2 separate regions of the Homo sapiens genome follow, and region 1 is linked to region 2. Evidence: fine-mapped expression QTL. A gene starts in region 2. The other region holds a variant in brackets. All regions are shown on one strand. Distances are between the middles of the regions.

Region 1 (5,000 bases), 52 kb before region 2:
ACCCTGGAGGCGGGGGTTGCTGTGAGCCAAGATCATGCCACTGCACTCCAGCATGGGCAACAGAGCGAGACTCTGCCTCAGTAAATAAATAAATAAATAAATAAATAAATAAATAAATAAATAAATAAATAAAGTGTACAATTCAGTGGGTTTTAGTATATTTGCAATGTTGTGAAACCACCATCACTATCGAATTCCAGAAGGAAATGTTCTGGATGATGATGGAAATCATCATCCCAGAAAGAAACCTGCGCCTATTTGCAGCTACTCCTCATTCCCCTGTACCCCATCTCCTCGTAACCACTAATTTACTCTCTGTCTCTATGAATTTGCCTGTTCTAGACATTTCTTTTCTCTTCCTTTTTTTCCAGAATCCAGGTAAGAAAGAATATTCTGGACATTTCTTACAATATGTGGCGTTTCGTGACTATTTTCTTTCACTGAGCATTATGTCTTTCAGGTTCATCCATGTTGCGTATGTCTTAGTACTCCATTCGCTTTTACGGCCAAATAATATTCTGAAATAATATTCTGTTGTAGATTGAGATCTATTTTTTCTTTTTGTAGCGATGGGGTTTTTGCTATGTTGCCTAGGCTGGTCTCGATTTCCTGGGCTCAAGCAATCCACCCGCCTTGGCCAGCTCCCAAAGTGCTGGGATTACGGGTGCCTGGCCTAGATTGAGCCCTTGAGAGGTCCTTTTTTTTTTTTTTTTTTTTTTTTTTGAGACAGAGTCTTGCTCTGTCGCCCAAGCTGGAGTGCAGTGGCACAATCTCTGGCTCACAGCAAGCTCCGCCTCCCGGCTTCACGCCATTCTCCTGCCTCAGCCTCCCGAGTAGCTGGGACTACAGCTCGTAAAAGTCCTCCACACAAAAATCAGCCCGCCACCACGCCTGGCTAATTTATTTTTTTTGTATTTTTAGTAGAGACGGGGTTTCACCGTATTAGCCAGGATGATCTTCGAGCTCCTGATCCGCCTGCCTCGGCCTCCCAAAGTGCTGGGATTACAGGCGTGAGCCACCACGCCCGGCCGAGAGGTCCATTATTTGTCTAAAATTCTTGGTCTCTACTCTTGTTGGCAAATAGCTTCCTCTCCTGTGTGGCTAGCAGTCCAGAGTTGAAGTGGTCAGAGCAGGAGGGTGGCCAAGGGGTCAGGAGAGGCAGAGGCTGAGGCCAGCAGTGTTGAGTGTCCCTATTGTGCCCTACAGGTGGGCAGTTTCCATGCATTCGCCAGAAGGCGAGCAGCGTTGCCGTCCATCTCTGCCTTCTCTCCGCCTCCTTTCACAGCCTCTGGCCCTTTCTGACTGCTGCTGGGTAGAGGTGCAGGAGGGGCTCCCCATGCCAGCTATGGGCACTGAACTCAGTTCAAGAATCAGCCAGTTACCATGGTGATGCTGGTCCTATGGGGGTGTGGTTCAGCAAAGCAGGCTGTTGTGCATGAGAAAGAACAGCCCCATTTAAAATCTGTAGAGCATTCTAAAGTTAAGAAAGCACTTTACATCTGGTATCCTGTGATCGCTGTGATAATTATGTGAAGCAGGGAAGATAGTTATCTCGGTCTGGTTTGTGCTGCTATAACAGAATACCTGACATTGGGTAATTTAGAAAGAACAGAGATTTATTTCTTACTGTTCTGGAGGCTGGGAAGTCCAAGGTCAAGGGGCTCACATCTGATGAGGACCTTCTTGCTGCATCATCCCATGGCAGAGGATAGAAAGGCAGGAGAGCACGCCCAAGGCAGAGTAGGAAGGAGGCCAAAACCATCCTTTATAAGGAAGCCACTCCTGCTGTAGTGAACCCACTCCCAAAAAAATGGCATTAATCCATCCATGATGGCAGAGTCTCCATGACCTAATCACCTTTTAACAGTCCCAATTCTCAACACTGTTGCACCCGGAATTAAATTTCCAACACAAAACCTTTAGGGGACACATTCAAATCATAGCAATAGTATTATGACTGTTTTACAGAGATGGAACCTGAAGCCCAGAGAGGTTACCCAGCTTGCTCAAGGTTATGATTCTAATACACAGTGGATGGAGCCAGACCTCATTTCCTCATGCCTAGACATGCATTCAGCAAGTATTTACTGAGCACCTACTATGGGCCAGGCCCTGTTCTAGACACTGCAGATATGGCAGTGAACAAAGGAGGAAGCCTCTGCTCCATAGCTCCATACGTAATTATGTATCACATATACCTGTAAATATACATCACAGTTGTAAAAATATATATCAGCTGGAGACAAGCCTGAAGAGAAACAAATCAGGCAAAGAGACTAAAGAGTAGCAGGATGGAGGGGGGCAGGGAGGATGGCGCTGTTCAAGGAGAGTCAGGGAAGGCCTCTTTGACAAGGGGCCACGAGAGTAGATGTGAGCAAAGTGGGACCTGAACTGTGTGGATCTCTGGGGAAGACA[C/A]TGGCTCCCTCTAATGTCCTAGGTACTGTGGAGGACTTTTATGAGCAGTATCTCATTTTGAATCCTTGCACCCACTGGGTTGGGTAGGTGTTACAATGCCCATTCAAAAATGGCAAAGCAAGCTCAGAAGTTCAACCAGGTTTGAGACAGTAATATTGAGATTTCCAGGTGCTGACTTTCCCCGCCAGTCACTGAAGCAGACAAAATCGTTAGAGACATTTCCGTTTCAACTGCTTTTTGTCCGTGTGTGATGGAGTCCCTAAAACAGACAAAACTGATATAAATTTGGGCAAATTTATAATGACTGTTTTCTGTCTCTGTGTGGTGGAATCCCGAAAACTGGGTTCCCGTGTGAATTTCCAAATTGTTCGGAAGATTTTGGGTTCCTCTTTTTAGTCCTGTTCTTCTTCACTCTTCTCCTCAGAAGGCTGGACAAAAACTCCTCAGAAGCCATCACCAAAATTAGATAGTCTCTCTTTCAGCTATGCTTTCACTTTTGCTAACATCACCACATACCAAAATCAGTGAGAAATATTGGATTCTTTTTGGCTGGGAATGAATAGTTCGGTGGGGAAAGACCCTATTATTGGGAGGCCCAGACAAGTGAGTTGCTGTCTGTCTGGCCCATAGCAAGACCAGAGTGCTATATATCTGACATAACCCTTGAGTGAAATGAAAGGTAAGAGTTGGCAGTGGGAGGAGGGAGAAAGAAAAATGGAAACTCTTACAGAAGACCTGCTATGTCCTTGGGACTTTTTATTTATATCATTTAATTGAACTGAATTTTCCAGTGATCCCAAGGGGTAGGTGTCATACCTATTTAGAGATGAAGAAACAGATGAAACAGCAAGTGGCTGAGCTGGGACTAGAATCCAAGTCAATGGAGATGGATAGCCCATGTTCCTTCTACGTCTCATTTTGCTTTCCTTGCAACACTAGGAGTGTCTGGGTTGTCATTTGATCTTTAGCTAATATAGCTTCACTTTGAAATATGCTCCCTTCAAGTATGTCTTTTTATTTCTTCCTTTCTTTCAGTTATATTCCCTAAAGCAGGGACTGGCAACATTCCACACAATTGCTGAAGAGGTGCCTGGACCTTTCTGCATTACCTCACTTTGCTATGCAAATACCCACCATCACAAAACTCTCTTGTTCAGTGCTGTGGTGGGGCCGTATCCAGTCTGACAGAGGCCTGAGAATGGCTGGTGAGATGGAAAGGTGCTAGTGCCCCATGATCCTGCTATCTAAGAAAAGAGAGGGCTTGGAAATGAAGTCCCTAGACATGGGTCTCCCTAAGGGGATCTGTGTGGCTCCAGGGGATACAGGGCCCAGAAGGCACAGTACGACAGCACTGGGCAGGGGGCGCTGGGGCCTTAGAGGGATGCTGCTTTTAGGTCCTACAAGAGCCTAGGAAGAATGACCATGCCTTCTAAACCAAAAATCAGAAAATACAGCCTGCTAAGGAATTTTGGTGCTATTGACACAGAGACTAGTTTAGATATTGATATGCTGATATTTCTTGGCTATGTGGATGGAGAAATGAACAGAATATTTTAAATAAAAACTCTTTTAGCAAATCCAGGCTGGAGGGTAATTGTATGGCATGGACTGCAGATAGCCAAAGAGATAAAGGCAGGATATAGGATCCATTTAGGGTACCTGAAGATGGTAGAAATAGTCCAAAGGTATAAGCATGGGAGTCATTTCAGCCTGGAACCATGGGATCAATCAGGCCTGGAAAGAAAGGGACTCTGTTTCTTATTTATTTATTTATTTATTTATTTTGAGACGGAGTCTCACTCTGTCACCCAAGCTGGAGTGCAGTGGTGTGATCTTGGCTCACTGCAACCTCTGCCTCCCAGGTTCAAGTGATTCTCCTGCCTCAGCCTCCTAAGTAGCTGGGATTACAGGTGTGTCCCAACATGCCCGGCTAATTTTTTTGTATTTTTAGTAGAGATGGGGTTTCACCATGTTGACCAGGCTGGTCTCAAACTCCTGACCTCGTGATCTGCCCACCTCAGCCTCCCAAAGTGCTGGGATTACAGGCTTGAGCCATGATGCCCGGCCTGGGACTCTGTTTCTTATAGCAAAAGGGCTCAGTGGTAGGGCTGGATTGGGGTGGGTGGGGACAGTGTTGGCTTAACTTACTGACTGTGGCCTAAAACTGAAGAAATCGGTAAACAAGAAGAATGGCCCTAAAAGCCTGGGCCAGAAAGAAAAAAATGTGTAAAACTGGGGCAGTTTCTTTTCCTCAGCTCAGTTTCCTCATTTGTAAGATAAGGCCACGAGAATGAATGATCATGGAAGTCCCTTCCAGATCTCACATTCCTTACTATGACTTTCATATCCCCTGGGGCTGAGCACATCGTTTAACCCATGGTTGGCACTTATATTCAGGTCTTCTCAGGGGACCAGTGGACTTTCTCACTCACTAGGGATCCCTGTCTCTGTCCCCAACTCCTGGCCCATAGGCATCTGGCTATATACATAAGACAAGCAGGTGCCTTTCCATATTTCTGAATGCTCACGATGTCTCATCATGCTAGGCGTGGTGGCTCACACTTGTAATCCCAGCATTTTGGGAG
Region 2 (5,527 bases):
AGATAACAAAGTAGTCTCTCAAACAACATGCAGGCACTTTAACATTAGTACTTCCACTGTTATTAAGTACAGACTTTATTTCTTTACTCTGACACCTTAAAACAACCCTCCATCCCCACAACCTAATTGAATGATTAAGTGTAAAGTGAATTACTAAGTCAGTGTGCCCCAAATTTCTTTAGATCACCAGTACATACCACAGCATCAAACCGGTTATGATAAATTTCTGCCTGGCTCTGCTCAATGTATTGTTGTTTAGCATGAATAAAAGCTGGTATTCCCCCATACACCCAGCCAATGATGCCTGCTGTAGCTGCCGTCTTACAGATATTAGCAAGGTCCTTTGAAATTCTCTGCTGTTCACTACAACATCAAAAAGACAATGTTGTTTGGGATTAGTTTATGGACATTGCTCTCCAAGAGACTCTATAATCAGAATTAACCCAAATGCTACCACCACAACATTTTTCATCATAGGTAGAATTCTCAGATGAATTAAACAGTTCAGTTATATTAAAAGGAACGTAGTCTCAGACAAAACGAAGCTATGGTGTTAGAATTAGGATAGTGGCAACTCCTGAAAAGACAATGACCGGAAAAGGCACAAGGGGAGCTTTTGGGATGTTACAATAGTTGCCATTTCTTTCTTAGTGCTGGGTACAGCTATGTTCAGTTTGTGAAAATTCATCCATCAGTATACTTAGGCACATTTTTCGAAATGCATTTCCTACTCCAATAAAAAGTTTTTTAAAAGGTGCTTTTGATGACTATTACACCCCTAGAAATAGGAAGAATTTGTGAGTTGGATAGAGAGACCAATATTTCCGTTTAAATCTTAAGTTAACTTTTAGAAATCACACCAACTCGTGAGATTTTAGGGCAATGTATGAAAGAATAAAAACGTGGATGTAAGACAAAAAATCTAAATTCTATTTTACTAAATAATTTCATGAAATACTCAGATAGGACTGTACTAATAAAAGCACTGGGCTGGGCACAGTAGCACACGCCTGTAGTCACAGCTAACTTAGGAGGCTGAGGTAGGACTTGAGCCCGAGTTCAAATCCAGCATAGCAACATAGCAAAGATCCTGGCTCTAAAAATAAACAAATAAATGTTTTTTTAAAAACGCACTGGGAAAGTTCACTATGCAGTGGGTGGCACATGCCAATCTAAAATAACAAGGAAAAACTACTATTTAATTCGATTTGTTACTCTCAAATGCATAAGAAGCTAGAACTGCTAATGAAGCTTCCAAGATGTCATCCTGAGACTGCTCTAACAAATAGCTGTCTTAAGTATTAAGTTACTATAAAATAATTGCCCTTCTAGGCCGGGCGCAGTCCAGCCGCGGTGGCTCAGGCCTGTAATCCCAGCACTTTGGGAGGCGGAAACAGGCAGATCACGTGAGGTCAGGAGTTCCAGACCAGCCTGGCGAATGGTGAAATCCTGTCTCTACTAAAAATACAAAAATTAGCTGGGCATGGTAGTGGGCAACTGTAATCCCAGCTACTCTGGAGGCTGAGGCAGGAGAACCGCTTGAACCTGGGAAGTGAAGAGTGCAGTGAGCCAAGATCGCACCACTGCACTCCAGCCTGGGCGATAGAGCGCGACTCAGTCTCGAAAAAAAAAAAAAAAAGAAAGAAAAATACGAGTTTGGGCTGGCGCGGTGGCTCACGCCTGTAATCCCAGCACTTTGGGAGGCCGAGGTAGGCGGATCGCCTAAGTCCAAGAGTTCAAGACCAGCCTAGGCAACATGGTAAGAACCCTGTCTATAAAAAATACATTAAAAAAAAATTAGCCGGGCGTGGTGGTGCGCGCCTGTAGTCCCAATTAATCGGGAGGCTGAGGTGGGAGGATCACTTGAGTCCCAGAGGCAGAGGTTGCAGTGAGCCGAGATAGCACCACAGCACTCCAGCCTGGGCGACAGAGCAAGACCCTGTCTGGAAAAAAAAAAAAAAAAAAGAAAGAAAAAAGATACAAGCTTGGGTTACAAATATCAGAACCTCAAATATAATCTAAAAATGAAGCACACCATCCTTGGTGTCCTAAGGCTGACCCAGGCTGCCCACGCTGCAGGACACCGCTTTCGCGGCCCCCTACCCCACTTCACACCCTAGGCACTTTTACTCTTTGCCAAACAGCTCCCGGAGGCGGTCCCATCCAGATTCCGGGTAATAGGGCTCTGGGACGTAGGGAAGCCGCTTCTGACGCTCCTCAAGGACTTCCGAATCGGCAGTCACAGCTTCGGCAGCAAAGACTCGGGGAAATAGGCACAATGCTCTACAGAGAAAGCTCCGCGGTGCCGGTGGCGGCACCTCCATGGCCTTCTCTCGACCTACGGACAAACTTGAGCGCTCAGGACTTCAAGTCCTCGCGGACGTGCCGCGGGAGAGCGTAACTGTACGAGGTGAGAATCCGTGCATTTGACCCAGGTTAACCCTCTGCCAGAGGGCTCGACACCCACACCTTCAGTCCCCGGCCTCGCTTTGGAGTCCTTGGAAATACGACACAGGAAGTCCCGCCCGACCGGGGCAAAGGCCAGGGGGCGGGGCGACGGCGAAGCCGGAGCCCAAAAGACTTCCGGTTGAGGGCGGGTTGGGCCACTGCTGTGCTGAGTGCACCCCCGGAAGTGAGTTGGCTGCCAGTAGTGAAGCTCAGCGTGGTCCCGGCAGGCCTTCGCTCCGTGTTTGTGGTTCCTGGGTCATGCAAACGGTGTCTGCGGCTACTTATATTCAGCTTGAGGTGGTCATAGGTTGAAGTAATTTATCGTATTTAAAATGCCAGGAATTAGCCGGGCATGGTGGCGGGCGCCTGTAATCCTAGCTACTCGGGAGGCTGAGGTAGGAGAATCGCTTGAACCCGGGAGGCGGAGGTTGCAGTGAGCCGAGATCACACCACTGCACTGCAGCCTGGGCAACAAGAGCGAAAATCTGTCTCAAAAAAAAAAAAAAAAGGCAGGAATCCCGCTTCAGTAAGGAAGAAAGTGCAATATTCAGTGCAAGTGGAGTAGGGAAAGAGGGAAAGGCGATTTGTGCAAAAACAAGTCCAACCTACTCTGCCAACATTAGAGAAGCCTTCCAGGCTGGGCGGGGTCCGTTTGTACCTTGTCAGTTCTGCTGGAAAAAAAACGAGGCATTGGGGATGGGTGTTGGTGCCAGTTACACTAAGATTTCGAGAACACTTTTTTGAAGAATCAGCTTTTTGGCAGGTCTTCCTAAGGTGGATTTCACTCCCTTTAGTTCATATGCCTACTGCTTCTCAAAAGGCAGGAGAATTTCTGGAATTTCTATCAAGTGTTTGTATAATTTGCCGTCACTACAACCTCTGCTAACATATGCTTCGAAGTACAGTTTTCATTAAAATGAATGCATTTAAAATATTCTCAATATTCGTGTAATTTCATTCAATCCTTGTTAACAAGCATACTCCCTTATTCATTTTGCCAATCCCTTCACCTCCTTGATTCCTTTCTAGTTGTCAATCAAAACTGCCACACTGTAGTAGAATACAGTAAGTGGACTTAGGAATTTGATAGCTGGAAATGCTACACATAAGTCCCTGAGAAGTGACTGACTAGAGTGACCAGCTCAATTAGTGACAGCGCCATGAAGACTACTCTGGGATATGAGATTTGATTCAGCACTCATCGTAGCACTTACAACACTGCATCATAATTTCCTATTAATCTGTCTCAATAAACTATCCTTGAGATCACAGACCAAATATATTCATCTCTGTATCTCCAGGACCTAGAACCGCAGTAGGTGCTCAGTAAATATTTGTTGAATAATTCAGATCTCCTGACTTCTGGCTCTGGATTACTGCTTATCCCATGTTAGGTAGAAGTGGGCACCAAGATAAGTTACCAAGGCCTGAAAGCCCAAGAAAATGGCTGTACAGTCTGTTTCTAACCTATATGTAGAAAAAGCTAAATGCATAAGATGACCCCAGAATTATTCTGGGGTGAAGGAGGACTTGAAATGGGTAGGAGGGTTTGGGTGGGTGTTGGGAAGATACTGACACAATCACTTATGTACAACTCAAATGCCCCAGGATTCACTAGCCTGTAGATGAGGTAATATTAACAGGCAAATTTTAAATTCCATAACTTGTTTCTCATTTGGGTAACGGAAGACTCATTTGTAATGTTCCTTTTGCCACCTGATAACTCAAAAAACTCCCCTCTCCTTTGGCTACTGCTCGCACTGTTGCTGCTCTTCCATCTGAGCCCTCCCACATTTCCTACTTCCCCAATCCCTTACGGCTTACCTTCTTTTAGAACAAGGGAAATGCTCACCCTCCTCTGTAGTCTGCTTATTTTATTTTATTTTTGATACAGTCTTAGCTTCGTCACCCAGGCTGGAGGGCAGTGGCAAGACCTCGGCTCACTGCAACCTCTGCCTCCTAAGTTCAAGTGATTCTTGTGCCTCAGCCTCCTGAGTAGCTGGGATTACAGGCATGTGCCACAAGCCTGGCTAATTTTTGTATTTTTAGTAAAGATGGTGTTTCACCATGTTGGCCAGGATGGTCTCAAACTTCTGGCCCCAAGTGATCTGCCTGCCTCAGCCTCCCAAAGTGCTGGGATTACAGGTGTGAGCCACCAAGCCCAGCCCTGTAGGCTGTAGTCTGCTCTTTTTGAAGGTTCTCCGATCAATACAGTCTAAGCCAGAGGTGTCCAATCTTTTGGCTTCCCTGGGCCACATTGGAAGAATAATTGTCTTGGCCCACACATAACACTAACTGTAGCTGATGAGCTAAAAACAAAAAACAAAAAGAAAAGAAAAAGAAAAAAGTCCATGCATAAATCTCATGTTTTAAGAACGTTTACAAATTTGTGTTGGGGCGCATTCAAAGCTTTCCTGGGCCGCGTGCAGTTCGTGAGCCATGGGTTGGACAAGCTTGGTCTAAGCCAAAAGGTGTTATGGGGTTTACTGGACCACTGTTTCACATATGGCTTTCTTGTCCCCAGGACATGTGTTTGCCAGCAGAGTAACTGCATCAGGGAAAGATTTCAGTGCAATCACCATACTGCCTGGAACACCATTCTTCCACCAACAGCCCTTGTTGCTGAATTCTGTTTATAGAACCTAATAGTTTCTTCCCTCACAGTGAATTTTTTTCTCAGGGGTCAGCAGGTTCCCTTCCCTGCCAGGTTCACCAAGTACTGCCCTTGCTACGTATTTTACATTTTGTTACATTATATATGATATAAAACTTTTCAACATGTGGAGAGAGAATGAATTTTGAGAACTCCAAGAACCATTTCATTTACTTATCCTTCATGGTATAAATTAATTTTTACCTCCACAAAGTTTCCCATCTGCTCCAGTTGGAAGTTTATTCTTCCTCTAAACTCCAGATCCACATTGTCTTCATGAATAATTGGCACTCCTGTTGCCTTAATCACCTTCCACGTATGTATGATGCCTCTCATATTGTTTATCATCTCAACGGCACAGCCCCTTGAGGTTTGGGAGCCTCTTGTAAACTTTCCTTGTCTCTGTGCATAGTAGATGCTTAAGAA

What was found. PIP is the estimated chance that this variant, and not a neighbour inherited with it, causes the effect.
Region 1: its variant is the best candidate, but not a certain one, in a credible set for the expression of TIMMDC1 in skeletal muscle (GTEx, PIP 0.87).

Annotation. Positions count from the first base shown.
Region 1 is chr3:119,548,237-119,553,236 of GRCh38, reverse strand. The region is part of intron 2 of CD80 (CD80 molecule); the gene reads left to right. Among named protein-coding and RNA genes, the nearest start is that of CD80, 8.9 kb to the left of the region's middle. RefSeq lists an enhancer at 2,706-2,925. The variant C/A (reference allele first, on the strand shown) is at 2,416.
Region 2 is chr3:119,495,531-119,501,057 of GRCh38, reverse strand. It overlaps TIMMDC1 (translocase of inner mitochondrial membrane domain containing 1), which reads right to left and starts at 2,511. Exons shown (of 7, transcript NM_016589.4): 1 at 2,131-2,511; 2 at 198-363. The coding sequence starts at 2,324. RefSeq lists an enhancer at 2,722-2,771.